Linked DNA regions of Homo sapiens. The protein of the gene in region 2 purifies or fractionates together with the protein of the main gene of each other region. This does not show direct contact. Each region holds a gene or a part of one and is shown on either strand. Other genes may lie near its edges.

Region 1 (7,039 bases), on a different chromosome or scaffold from region 2:
AGTGGAGCTACATTTGTGATCACAGCTGTGTGATAACAGGAGTCATTTCAGGCCTCCTGGTGCCTTGGTTGTAAAATAGTTCTTTCCTTAAATGCAACTGGGAGCTATTTAAAAGTGGGCTATAAAATGCCCAGGGTTAGCAGGTGGAGCCTATGTGTCCTAGCTGTGTGAGGCTAGTCCTGCCCTTTCCAAACTCACGCTCAAAGTTTGACCAAACTCAGGAAGGCTAGTGTTTGTAAGATTCTTTCTTTGTTTTTATTATTTTTTCTATCCCTGTTGAAGTTAACATGTTTATAAGATTCTTCGGATAAAAGAACTTACGTTCAAAATCAGTAACATATTGGGCTAATGTTTGTAAAACACCGTGAGGGACATGGAAGACAAGGAGTGGGTCATTTTAACTTGGAATACAGACTCATACAAAGAATATCTGATAACTATACTCTGGTATATAAAAAGCATTGGGACATTTGTGTTTTCTCTGTTTTAATGGAATTTGATATTTGTAAGAGCTGTCTCACATTCTACGAGGATTCACTGTGGAGTGATTTAAATTATTTGGGGCTTATAAAGCCAGATGGACTGATTGGAGAAGTTTTAGCTCAGTTTTGAAGGAAGGCCAGGGTTAGAGTATACCTGGAGGTGAGGAGAGTGTGTTCCCAGGCAGGCACGTGGCATGTTGGAAGCCATGAAGCAGACCCGGTGAGCTTTGTACACAGGTTCGGGAGGGAGAGAGAATCTCTGCTCATCCCCGAGAGAAGCATATCCAGAGAGGAGCAGTGCCACTTTGACTCCTTGGGGCCTGATGTCCCCTGAGTTTCCCTCACTTCAGCTACTTTTACACCCCAGGACATGTGTTGCTCACCCCTCACCCCAAGTTCTGTCCCAAATATAGCCCCAAACACCTTCTCTATACAACATCTGCCACAAGTGGAAGTTTTCAATAGCTTACAAAACTTAGAATAAATAAGAAATAAACTTAGAAATACCCCAACACAAAAATGGTCTGGCACACAAAATCTAGTTTCTGAACCTGCCAAAGTTGGCTGTCCTATTCTGTTTTTGAGATGGCTGACACAGCTTTTTATGTCCATAGTCTGGTTTCCTGTTTTTAAGCCCCCAATATGTTTGACATAGAGGTGCCAGACTAACTGGTTACCATGGGATGTTTACTAGTAGAAACTCTTACAACTCATGTTTAGGCACTGGAGGTAGATTGAAACAAAATTCATAGGCTGAGGGCTACCACATATATGGCAAAATGCTCACACTGTTGGATCTTAAGTGGAGGGTATGGGGATATTCATTGTAGTCTTTCAACTTTTTCATTTTTAAAAAAATTAATAGTGGGGAAAATAGGAGGAGGGGTATGGCAATTAGGAAGTAACTTAAACTTCTGAGAAAAGGCGGAATCTTCAAAACAGGATGCTTTTAGGAAATCTTTTTTTGTTTGTTGTTTTTTGAGACAGTTTTGCTCTTGTTGCCCAGGCTGGAGTGCAATAGTGCGATCTCAGCTCACCGCAACCTCTGCCTCCCAGGTTCAAGCGATTCTCCTGCCTCAGCCTCCCTAGTAGCTGGGATTACAGGCGTGTGCCACCAGGCCTGGCTAATTTTGTATTTGTAGTAGAGACGGGGTTTCTCCATGTTGGTCAGGCTGGTCTCGAATTCCCGACCTCAGGTGATCCGCCTGCCTCGGCCTCCCAAGGTGCTGGGATTACAGGCATGAGCCACTGCGCCTGGCCTAGAACATCTTTTTTTTCTGTTGAGAAAAGGATTACTCAGTGCCATCTATAAAATCTATTCTACCTTCTTTTTTTTTTTTTTTTTTTTGCGGCAGAGTTTCGCTCTGTCACCCAGGCTGGAGTGCAATTGCGTGGTCTCAGCTCACTGCAACCTCCGCCTCCCGGGTTCAAGTGATTCTCCTGCCTCAGCCTCCCAAGTAGCTGGGATTACAGGCACCCGCCACCACACCTGGCTAATTTTTGTATTTTTAGTAGAGATGGGGTTTCACTGTGTTGGCCAGGCTGGTCTCGAACTCCTGACCTGGTGATCCACCCACCTCGGCCTCTCAAAGAGCTGGGATTACAGGTGGGAGCCACTGCACCCGGCCTGTCCTACCTTCTTTAATCGTATGTGCTACAAAACCATCTTCCATGAGATACAAAGTTGAAAATTAAAGCTGTATTCTAAGAAACTAGCCCCAGACTACCATATTTGTCTCCTAATGTCCTGCATTATGTATTTAGAAGTGCTTGTCTTTGGGAAGGAGTGAACGGGCAAGAGATGTGGCAGAGGGAGTATTAAAGGAGGTCCCTGTAAGATACTGGGGAGAGCTGTTGGGGAAGAATATTTCTGAGCCTGGAAGAGACTTCCCAGGCCATTCTGCAGCTCAGGGCTGGTTTTCTCCATTGTAGGTGTGATGGCTGTGAAGCAGTTCTACTGGGCATCGAGCAGCAAGTTCTGAGAGCCAACCAGTACAAAGAGAACCACAACCGAACTCAGCAGCAGGTAGAAGCAGAGGTAAGGAAGGAAAGGAACATTTGTTTCTCTCTCCAGGCATACCTGTTTATTCGTTTGCAGTGTTTATGTTTTTGTTTTGCGAATCTTGGTGTAGATGAAACAAGCAGTCACCAACAAGTGGGCCTGGGCTAGGTGCTGGGTTACAGGGATGAGTGTGACACGGCTCCTGCTCTTGGTGTTCTGTCTCTTTTTTCTGATTCCTGGTCAGCATAGGGTGATCAATCAGGCTTGGAGAACAGAGAATGTTGTAGTTTCAGTACACATGTACTTTGCAGCTATAGAGCAAAAGAAAATGAGTTTGGGGATGGATCTTAAAAATGGATAGAAGGATGGTGGTAAGTTACCAGGTGGAGTGGAGGGAGGGGTACAGCTGGGCAGGGGCATGTGGGGCTTCAAGGCCCTGGGAGTGTTCTGCTTCTTAAGTTGCGTGGTGGGCACATAGTTTCATTTTATTCTTTCTCTGTGAACTGTACATATATATTATAAATGTGTAAAATGCATGACATGTTTCATACGGAAAGAAGAAAGGGATAAAATTTGGCAGATGAGCTGCAAGTGAAGTAAAGAGGATGTAAGTGTGGTTTTAGTGACACCTGGTTGTTGAGGAAACTTTTAGCTTCTTGGACAGATGTAGGCCCCAGCCTTTGCGTTATGGGCATTTGTGTACCTGTAACCTGACACATGAAGTGACCTCACTTCACAATTTATTTGGAGCCCTGCACTGATTTTCCTTAGCATTGGAAGTTCTTTTCTAGTGTGAATGGAGTTTGAAGTATTAATGATGCTTAATGAATTTTGAAAATCAGGTGTCTAAGAGTGGCGGAGTGGGACCCGTAATTCCAGCTAAGAAGCATAAGAGATGAGTAGATGGTGCCTTTCAAAGGGGGATTTGTGAAATTTGGAGTGATTCTCTATACTGTTATATGCACTCCTTGAAAATAAAACCTGTGTCCTATTTGTAAGACGAGCGTCTTGTCTCATGCCTAACCCATAGTAGGTACTCAAATGTTGAACTGAATATTTCTGGCACACCATAAAAGTGTGTCAGTGGACTGCTGAACTCTGCTTTTCATGAACTTGAGCTAATTTTTTTGAATACACACACACACCACCCTATATACATATACTCTGTGGATGTTCAATTCATAGACCATGTTTAATCCGACTAGCCAAGGAAGTATGAGGCTGGGTGCAGTGGTTCACACCTGTAATCCCAACACTTTGAGAGACCGAGGAGGAAGTATTGCGTGAGTCCAGGAGTTCGAGACCAGCCTGGGCAAGGAAGTGTTAACTATATTTAACATTAGTCCAAAGCAAAGACAATTAGGAAAATAAGCTTGCTGCTTTTCTAATAAGCTGTGCAACAACCCTCTTGATGATGGTGGCCTTTTCTCTGACTTGGGATTGAGGTCTGAACAAAGTAGGAAGGGCTAACCGCTTTCTCCTTTCTGTTTATTCTTCCCTATAAATCAAACTCTGTACAAAATGAGGTTGGGAGGCTAACCACACTACCTAATCTTTGGTATCAAGGTCATTAACAAAGATGAATGATACTTGTTTTAGAATTTTGAACTGTTCAAGTTTATTTTCATTATAAATAGCATCAGACAAAAGAAAGGCGGGTGTGCACAGAGCTATTGTAGACACTTGGCTAAAGTTTGAGGCACACCGTGTAGTTACACAACAGTGTAGACTCTTTAAATTTTGGTTATTTAAACACAGAGGGTGGGTGTGTGCACGAGCAGAGCCTGGTGCTGCCAGCAGGTGGCGGTAAGGATTTAAGTTTGAGAAAAAGAAATCTGAGCAAAAGGCCAAGGCCACCTCCACCACCAATTAAAACAGTCCATTGACGTAATAATCTTTTAGAAAATCTGAACCAGACCAATATGGTCTGTTCCCTGAGCATGGCCAAAGCTTAGGACCTTGTCATTTTTTCCATTTAGCAAATGCATGATCTGGCTGCTAAGTGTTGAAGGCTGCTTGCCACCTACTTGAGGCACACAGAAGATACTCACCAAATAGCTACTGACTTGAAAGGAAAAGAAATCTACAAAGAATCAGGGTGATTCTGTCGTATTCTGTTTGTATTTATGCCTCTGTTACCCTTGGCCTAACTTTTAAAAGCCAATTTTGTCAACTGATTGGTGATCTTTTCTTTATTTGTCCTTAAATTAGATTGCTTGTTTTCAGAGGGAAAAACGTGATGTCCCCCTCCTGAATCTTATAACAACAGCTTTCTTCTGGTGAGTTGTAGCTTTAAGAGCCCTCCTTCTTAATGAAGTCAGCCCTATCACAGACTGCCGAAGAATATTCTCTCCATTTAGGCTTTTGTGGAAATAACCCATATTAGTTCCTAGTTCCAGCATACCTGGGGGACCATTATGAGCTGTTTCATTATTTCTGAGGAAGCACTGTGGTGGGGAGGTAATACTTAGAGCATTACAAAGCACTTTCACATTTAAATTTGATTTTGGAAAGTATTTTCTTTTTGAGACAGAGTCTCTGTCACCCAGGCTGGAGTGCATGGAGTGCAGTGGTGCAAACACAGCTCGCTGCACCCTCAACCTCCTGGGCTCAAGCAGTCTTTCCACCTCGGCCTCCCAAGTTGCTAGGACTATAGGACTACAGGTGTATGCTACCACACCTGGCTGATTTTTTTTCTTTTCTTTTTTTTTTTTTTTTTAGGGAGAACTGGGTTTTGCTGTATTATTCAGGCTGGTCTTGAGCGCCTAACCTCAAGCTATCCTCCCACCTCTGGCTCCCTCTTTGTTGGGATTACAGGCGTGAGCCACCATGCCCAACCTACTTTTCTTTTTTTCTTTTTTGAGATGGAAATTCACTCTGTTGCCTAGGCTGGAGTGCAGTGGCATGATCTTGGCTCACTACTGCAACCTCCGCCTCCTGGGTTCAAGCAATTCTCATGCTTCAGCCTCCTGAGTAGCTGGGATTACAGGTGCCCGCCACCACGCCCAGCTAATTTTTGTATTTTTAGTAGAGACGGGGTTTCGCAATGTTGGCCAGGTTGTTCTCCACCTCCGGACCTCAAGTGATCCGCCTGCCTCGGTCTCCCAAAGTGCTGAGATTACAGGCCTGAGCCACCGCGCCCGGCCTCATTTTTCTTTATATTTGGATGTGCCTATGTCTGATGTTAGGTGGAATGTTAATTTATAACTATTGCTACATTTACAAAGTAGGCTGTGTTCCAGTCATGGAGGTCGTAAAGTGTAACTGGACAAAGTAAGCTCTGTTTTCCATTATGTAGAAAATCTCCTAGGAGTTAGTGACAATCTTGAGATTTATACAATGCACCAAAAGTATGCTTCCTGGTACCTCTTGGAAAGGGACTCTCCATCACCCAGTTCTCTTTTTCTTTGTAGCACTTTTCCAGTTGTGCACTGTGTTTCCTCTCGTCTGCCTTTGCTTTGCCCCTCAACTGAAGGAAGGTTTCCTGCCCCAGAAAGCTCTTTCTCCTTTTGCCTAAATATTTAAGGTCTCTGATGGAGCTAGGCTGCATTTTTGCTAGCAGTGCAATCTTACTTGAAAATTTCTGAGGTTCATGTTTTGAGGAGCCTGTAAGCCAGGCCACTGGAGGAAGAAAGTCATAAGGAACTCTACCAAATTTAGGTAAAAGAAGACAAGTCTGTGGTGATGATATTTGTTGTCAGTTGAAGGGTGACTGTGGAAGAGGAATTGGAATTCTTAAGAAAGTCTACGAGACCAGAATGGGTTTAATTGGTTGACCTACCTGGGTGGCCAATTTGGAGTCCTAGAAGGAGCTGTCTGCGGTTACAACTGCCCAGCTACTGGAAGAAGCTAGTTGAATTTTAAGATCCCCTTCCACTAGGAGAGTCTGTCAGTGCTTCAGAAGTCTCGTTTGTGAGTTGTGTGTTGTAAATGCAGTGGTAAAGCTGACTTGAGCAAAGTGTCTCTGTAATGGATCCCAGTGTGAGGGCCATGGCCCTGCCCCAGCCCAGGCCAGGCCTTTGTGGAGGATAAAAGGCTCATTTCCTAGGCTTAGAGACACTTGCCCAAGAAGCCCTCTTTTCCTCTGCAGGATGTTTACATTTTGCCTCAAAGTGGTAACGACTGTAGAGGACTTAGATTTGTCAGCAGTCTTATTGGAGGAGTGAGGTGTGTGCATCTGAAACACAAAGGAGATGCAGTGGTGTGGGAGGCCATCGAAGAGGGAGAGGCACTGCCAGGCAAGTACAGATTGAAGGGTGGCAGATCAGTGTGGGCTGCAGCAGTCAGGGCAGTTTGTATGGACCAGGTGCTCAACTCTCCAGGCAGGATCAGAGGGGCAACCTGGGGAGGAGCGGTAACCCCCGGGGTGCATGAACAACAGAAGGGCATAGGGGGAATGACTGCTTCCAAGTGTGGTGTGGGGGACGAGTGTGGCTGAGATGGCTTGAGTGCAGGGCATGTGTTGAGGAGTGGGAAGGAAGGTACCTGATCTTGGTATTTCAGAACTAGAGAAAAAACCAAGTTTTTCCCTGGGCCAAGTCTTATTTCTTTTTAT
Region 2 (7,039 bases):
GTTATTTAAGTCTATACATATGTTAAAATTCAGAGAACTTTATATCCCAAATTTGCTATATGTTAATTAAAAAAAAAAGTAAAAATAAAGCCTTAAGAAATGAAGGGAGGCGGGGCACGGTGGCTCACGCCTGTAATCCCAGCACTTTGGGAGGCCAAGGGTGGCGGATTACCTGAGGGCAGGAGTTCCAGACCAGCCTGGCCAACATGGTGAAACCCTGTCTCTACTAAAAATATACAATTTAGCCATGCGTGGTGGTGGGCACCTGTAATCCCAGCTGCTTGGGAGGCTGAGGCAGGAGAATCGCTTGAACCTGGAAGGCAGAGGTTGCAGTGAGCCGAGGTCGTGACAGAGCAGGACTCCATCTCAAAAACATAAAAATAAAAATAAAAATAAAAAAAAGAAAGAAATGAAGGGGCCAGACAAAGCGGCTCATGCCTGTAATCTTAGCACTTTGGGAAGCCGTGGCAGGGGGATCGCTTGAGCTTAGGAGTTCAAGACCAGCTTGGGCAACGTGACAAAACCCCATCTTAAAAAAAAAAAATAGAAAAATTAGCTGGGCATGGTGGCACGCACTTGGGAGGCTGAGGTGGGAGGATCGCTTGAGCCCAGGAGATTGAGGCTGCAGTGAGCCGTGTTTGTGCCACTGCACTTCAGCCTAAGTGACAGAGAAAGACCCTATTTCAAAGGAAAAGAAAAAGAAGTGAAGGCCCTGTAGAGAGCGTCCTAGTGTCTAAGCTGACCTGGCCCCAAGCGCTGCTCGAGGGGTGCTTCTGTGACGGCGCAGCATGTGTGCCCAGGCCTGGTTCCTCACGGCCAGGCCCATCATCACTCACTGGCTTTTTCCTTCCTCGTGTTAGATTGGAGCTGGAGGGAGCATCACTGGGCTGAAGTTTAACCCTCTCAATACCAACCAGTTTTACGCCTCCTCAATGGAGGGAACAACTAGGCTGCAAGACTTTAAAGGCAACATTCTACGAGTTTTTGCCAGCTCAGACACCATCAAGTGAGTAGTTTAACTAGCAGGGGAAAGGGCTTCTAAGCTTAGGTGTAGTTCCGGCAAGAGCATCCAGATCCCATTTCCTTAACCCAACCTGGCCCAGGGAAGAAAGGAAAGATGTCAGCCACTTTCCGCCCTTCTTTCTCTTTCTCAAACTGCTCCTTGGCTGCCCTCACTTTGGTCCAGGTGGGTTACTGCTTTGGGAAGGTGTTCTGGAGCCTCAGCTCTTCTGTAAGTCATACCTGTATTAGACTGGACCTTGACCCTCACTAGATAAGCCAGCATGGCGTGGACCCAGAAAGCCACCTAGAGAATGGAGCAACAGCTCAGAACTTGAGACTGAATGCCCTGCACTCACTGTGGTGTAATGACCTGACCTGTTCCTGGGTGGAAGCTTATATGGATGGAATCTTTTCCATAAAGTGCTCTGGACTTCCCAAGAGAAAGTGGCTGGAGAAATTACAGAATGCGGCCGGGTGCAGTGGCTCATGCTTGAAATCCCAGCACTTTGGGAGGCCAAGGTGGGTGGATCACCTGAGGTCAGGAGTTCGAGACCAGCCTGGCCAACATGGTGAAACCCCCATCTCTACTAACAATACAAAAAATTAGCTGGGCGTGGTGGTAGGCCCCTGTAATTCCCAGCTACTTGGGAGGCTGAAGCAAGAGAATCGCTTGAACCCAGGAGGCAGAGGTTGCAGTGAGCCGAGATGGCGCCATTGCACTCCATCCTGGGCAACAAGAGCGAAAATCTATCTCAAAAAAAAAAAAAAAAAATTACAGAATACTCGTCACTTTGATTTCCAGCTAGAGCCGTGACTCTGACTGCTCCCTGAGGAATTAAGTGAGGGTGCTGGGGTGTAACTAGCATTGGATTGGATCCTGGGCTGTCCCGCAGGGATGAGGAGTGCATGCGCACGCAAATCAGCAGGCAATTGGATAGACAAGGCTCCAGGCTACTCTTCCGCAAGAAATCTTCCTGCTTGAAGATATTCATAGGGGATGGCAAAAGGCAGTGTAGCATGGATTTGAGAGTTTGAGAGAAAAACTGTGAGCTGAGCTCTTCTGGCTGAATAGCAGGATCCCTGAAGCACCCTCCTAGTCAGCCTCCCAGTCCAGTGGTTTGAGGGACCAGAAGAGCTCCTGGTTGTGTTTTTTCCCCCAGTGTTCAGAAGGGGGCAGAAGTGCTTTTCTAGCCAGCTCTGAGGAACAGGGCCAGGCAATCCCTCTTTGGCTTGTGTCTCCTTTGGCCTAAAGGGTGAAGAGTGAAAGGAGAGAGCAGTAAAGGAGGCTTGCTCAGAACCCGGGGTGTGGGGGGCAGGCGTGCCTCAGGGCTTGCTTTATGGTATAAGCTTTGTCTGCTTCAGGGACTTTTAGGAGCTGGGGATCCTGGGCCCAGCCATAACCAGACAGATTTCTGAGCCCCATTATCCCATCCCCTCTGTCTGGACGGTAGAGCAGTCTGAATGTTCCTCACTAGGAATCCACGGCAAGACAGTTATTCATTCATTCAACAAATATTTATTGAATGCCCGCTGTGGGTTAGTCACCGGAGCGGCAACAGTGAGTAAATAGGACTATCTCTGTCCCCAAGAATCTTACAACACAGTCTCTCCCTCCAGCATCTGGTTTTGTAGCCTGGATGTGTCTGCTAGTAGCCGAATGGTGGTCACAGGAGACAACGTGGGGAACGTGATCCTGCTGAACATGGACGGCAAAGAGGTGCGTTCTCCGAGGTCCTGCCTTTCCCTCCCTCACCCCCACCTCGGTTCTGTGTCCCCACCTGAACCGAGCTCTTCTCTGCAGCTTTGGAATCTCAGAATGCACAAAAAGAAAGTGACGCATGTGGCCCTGAACCCATGCTGTGATTGGTTCCTGGCCACAGCCTCCGTAGATCAAACAGTGAAAATTTGGGACCTGCGCCAGGTTAGAGGGAAAGCCAGCTTCCTCTACTCGCTGCCGCACAGGCATCCTGTCAACGCAGGTGTGATATCCCAGACCTCATCTCTCCTGCAGACCCTGCCTGTCTGACCACTGCTGGGGTTTTCCCTCAGTGTGGAAGCCACTACGTCAAACCTTTACCCCTGATAGCGTCTGCCAAGCTGATGTCTGGGAACCTTTGTGGCTGTGGCTGTCCCCATCAGCTGCTGAGTTTCCAGAATTTTTTTGTTGTTGTTCACAGCCCAGATTCACCTCTTCCTTTCCGCTCCTGTCTAGAGAGGAGTGGGAGGGAGAGTACCCCTGCAGGAGAAGGCCTGCAAGGCCAGGACCACAGAGGGCTTGTGGTTCCTTCAGCTCAGGGGCTTTTCACTTTGCCAGCTTGTTTCAGTCCCGATGGAGCCCGGCTCCTGACCACGGACCAGAAGAGCGAGATCCGAGTTTACTCTGCTTCCCAGTGGGACTGCCCCCTGGGCCTGATCCCGCACCCTCACCGTCACTTCCAGCACCTCACACCCATCAAGGTGAGTGGCGGTGGGAAGGAGCTCGCAGAAGGAGGCTGTGATCATGAGGCCGGAGCAGGTCTGCCCACAGTGGGGAAGGGCTGATGTGGTAAGCCTGCCACCCCAGATCGCTCCTGGCCCGAGCACAGAGCATCTCTTACCCATTGGCTCTCTCTCTTCCTTTTATCCCACTTCTGCCATCCCATATGGTTGAGTTTTCTGTCTCGCTGATAAGATATTTTTCTGAGTTTTTTCAGCCCAGCTCTGATCTCACTGTGAGAATTTTCTAAGATCCTGACCCTCTGTTCTGTCTTCTCAGCTTCAGTTACCTGTGTACAGTTGACCCACAAACCTTCATTTTTTATTTTTTTATTATTTTTTTTAAGGCAGGGTCTCGCTCTGTCACCCAGGTGGGAGTACAGTGGGGCAAGCATGGTTCATTACAGCCTTGATCTCCCAGGCTCAAGCGATCCTCCTGCCTCACTTTTTTTTTTTTTGTAGAGACAGGGTATTCTTGTGTTACCCAGGCTGATCCTTTTTTTTTTTTTTTTTTTTTTTCTTGAAACGGTCTTGCTCTGTCACCCAGGCTGGAGTGCAGTGGCACAAACATAGCTCACTGCAGCCTCAACCTCCTGGGTTCAAGCAATCCTTCCGCCTTAGCCTCGGAAGTAGATTGGACTACAGGTATGCGCCACCATACCCAGCTAATTTTTTTATTTTTTATAGAGATGGGGTTTTGCCATGTTGCCCAAGCTGGTCTTGAACTCCTAGGTTGAAGCCATCCCCCAACCTTGGCCTCCCAAAGTGCTAGGATTACAGGCATGAGCCACTGCGCCTGGCAACTTTGCCTTCTTAGTTTGTCTTGCAGGTTTCAGTGCTTCTAATAATAAAAATAAGTCTTTTATTTTCCCACCTTTTCTCAGGCTCTTGTTAATAGCTTCTCTATCATTAGTCCCCAACACTAATAGCTTTCAAGTCCTTTGATGCCTTTTTGCCTAAGCCCCCATGCAGACTGAGCTCTGCTAGTTCTGCATTCTTTTCCAAAACTACAGATCCTCTTCAGATCTTCAGGTTTTATGCCTATACTTCTCTGGTCAGTTCAGAATAGTGGTGGGGAGCGCCAGTTTCCAGCAGCCAGACCCCCCGGGTTAGAATCCTTGGGCAAATTACTTATATTTTGGATCTGTTTCCTCATCTGCAAAAAGGGAATACTAGTCTCTAACTGATAGGGTTGTTGTGAAGATGAGTCAGTATACTTAAAGCACTTGGCCCCATGCCCAGCACCTGGTAAGTACTGGTAAGTATTCAATAAATGATGATTGAATATTGAGTGGCCCCCACGTACCTCAATCACATCCAAGCTCTTAATAAATAATGTCAAGAATCCTTCCCCAGTTGGTGTTCCTGTTAATCCATCAGTGTTCCCGATAATCCATCTGTCTGCATGTCCCAGTTTGTATCTAGCCAGGTGTCGTAAGTCATTACAGCTTCCTGTGTGTGATTTGTGACTTATTTCTAAGCCTTCGCATGTACTATTTCTTCCTTCCTGCTAACCATGTCTTTCTTCCTTCAAAACTTCCTTGAGAAGTTTAGGAAAATCCCATCCAATTCTGCCATTTTAATAACTGCCAGATTTGTTTTTAGTGGGGTGATCTGGGGAATGTGGGTTTCCTTCTCTTTTTTAGCCATTAGCAATTTTACACTCAGCTCTTAGTTATTCGTGTTGATGGAGACAGGATGACAGTGGGGCTCCTCCAGAACTCAAGTCCTGTTAGGGTTTGGTCACCAGAGGCTTTTTCTGCTTTGTTGTAGGCCTCTTAGGTCAGTATCTGGGTCAGGCTGATGTTAAAACGTTTACCAGTTGGTATGATCTTAGGAAATGCAAATGAGGGAGAAGGCCTGAAGGTGCCCTAAGGGCCAGGGAGGCCAGCTAGGGATTAAAAATGTGCAATGGCAGAGGCACACACAACCTAAAACCATTCTTGTAGTTTTCTGTAAGACTTATCTCCATTATTAGGTTGGCTTGTTACTGGCAAATACTACTTTTTTTTTTTTTTTTTTGAGAGTCTTGCTCTGTCACCTAGGCTGGAGTGCAGTGACATGATCTTCACTCACTGCAACCTCCGCCTCCCGGGTTCAAGTGATTCCCCTGCCTCAGCCTCCCAAGTAGCTGGGACTACAGGCATGTACCACCACGCCCAGCTAATTTTTTTTTTGGTATTTTTAGTAGGGACGGGGTTTCACCATGTTAGCCAGGATGGTCTCGATCTCCTGACCTCGTGATCCGCCTGCCTCAGCCTCCCAAAGTGTTGAGATTACAGGTGTGAGCCACTGCACTCAGCCCAAAGAATACTTTTGATGTTCCTCTTTGTTCATATTTGTTTTTGATGTCCCCCTTGATCATGTTCTGTGTTTACCCTCATGGCCGGCCTCTCCATCTCCTAGGCAGCCTGGCATCCTCGCTACAACCTCATTGTTGTGGGCCGATACCCAGATCCTAATTTCAAAAGTTGTACCCCTTATGAATTGAGGACGATCGACGTGTTCGATGGAAACTCAGGGAAGATGATGTGTCAGCTCTATGACCCAGAATCTTCTGGCATCAGTTCGGTGAGGCTTGGGTCCTCAAATAATGATGGGAGGAAGCAGGGATTCAACCTACCTTATTGACCAAAAGTGACCAGAAATCAGGTGTCTCTGCTAATACCTTCACCCTCTCCTCATGTTGACACTCTTGTCTCTGCAGCTTAATGAATTCAATCCCATGGGGGACACGCTGGCCTCTGCAATGGGTGAGTAGGAGGAGAATGTCTCTGACTTGCCAAGTCCGATCCTACTTCCCAAGGTTCAGTGCGGGCCAGCCTCAGCCCCGCCCTGCCACATTCACCCCAGGGCAGTGGCCCACGAAGAAGATGGCTGGGAGACAGTGGTCTCTATAGCCAAGGCCCTCCATTCCTCTGGCTTTGTCTTGGTCATGCAATGCCTGGCTACTGTCCAGTTTCCTAGTATTTCTTTTTTTTTTTTGAGACGGAGTCTCGCTCTGTCCCCCCGGGCTGGAGTGCAGTGGCGTGATCTTGGCTCAATGCAAGCTCCGCCTCCTGGGTTCACGCCATTCTCCTGCCTCAACCTCTCGAGTAGCTAGGACTACAGGTGCCCGCTACCACGCCCAGCTAATTTTTTGTATTTTTAGTAGAGACAGGGTTTCACCGTGTTAGCCAGGATGGTCTCGGTCTCCTGACCTCGTGATCCGCCCACCTCAGCCTCCCAAAGTGCTGGGATTACAGACTTGAGCCACCGCGCCCGGCCTTCCTAGTATTTCTTTACCAAATTGTAGGTTTGCGGGCCAGCCCCAGGCTCTGAGAGATTGGTAACAGAAAGTGTAAGTCAGACTGGTCTCACTCTTCCTAGGTTACCACATTCTCATCTGGAGCCAGGAGGAAGCCAGGACACGGAAGTGAGAGACACTAAAGAAGGTGTGGGCCAGACAAGGCCTTGGAGCCCACACATGGGATCAAGTCCTGCAAGCAGAGGTGGCGATTTGTTAAAGGGCCAAAAGTATCCAAGGTTAGGGTTGGAGCAGGGGTGCTGGGACCTGGGGCAC

The links.
Region 1: the proteins of DDB2 (region 2) and COPS7B purify together in Homo sapiens (affinity purification with mass spectrometry; 4 studies listed by BioGRID and IntAct, with this or other methods). This does not show direct contact.

What each region holds. Positions count from the first base shown.
Region 1 is NC_000002.12:231,796,445-231,803,483, forward strand, and holds part of COPS7B (COP9 signalosome complex subunit 7b), read left to right. Parts: intron 1-2,414; coding exon 2,415-2,520; intron 2,521-4,463; coding exon of another isoform or gene 4,464-4,493; exon of another isoform or gene 4,494-4,657; intron 4,658-4,695; coding exon of another isoform or gene 4,696-4,763; intron 4,764-7,039. UniProt on the Homo sapiens protein: Component of the COP9 signalosome complex (CSN), a complex involved in various cellular and developmental processes.
Region 2 is NC_000011.10:47,231,954-47,238,992, forward strand, and holds part of DDB2 (DNA damage-binding protein 2), read left to right. Parts: intron 1-860; coding exon 861-1,006; intron 1,007-2,619; coding exon 2,620-2,719; intron 2,720-2,803; coding exon 2,804-2,981; intron 2,982-3,316; coding exon 3,317-3,459; intron 3,460-5,883; coding exon 5,884-6,048; intron 6,049-6,184; coding exon 6,185-6,230; intron 6,231-6,846; coding exon 6,847-6,896; 3' UTR 6,897-7,039.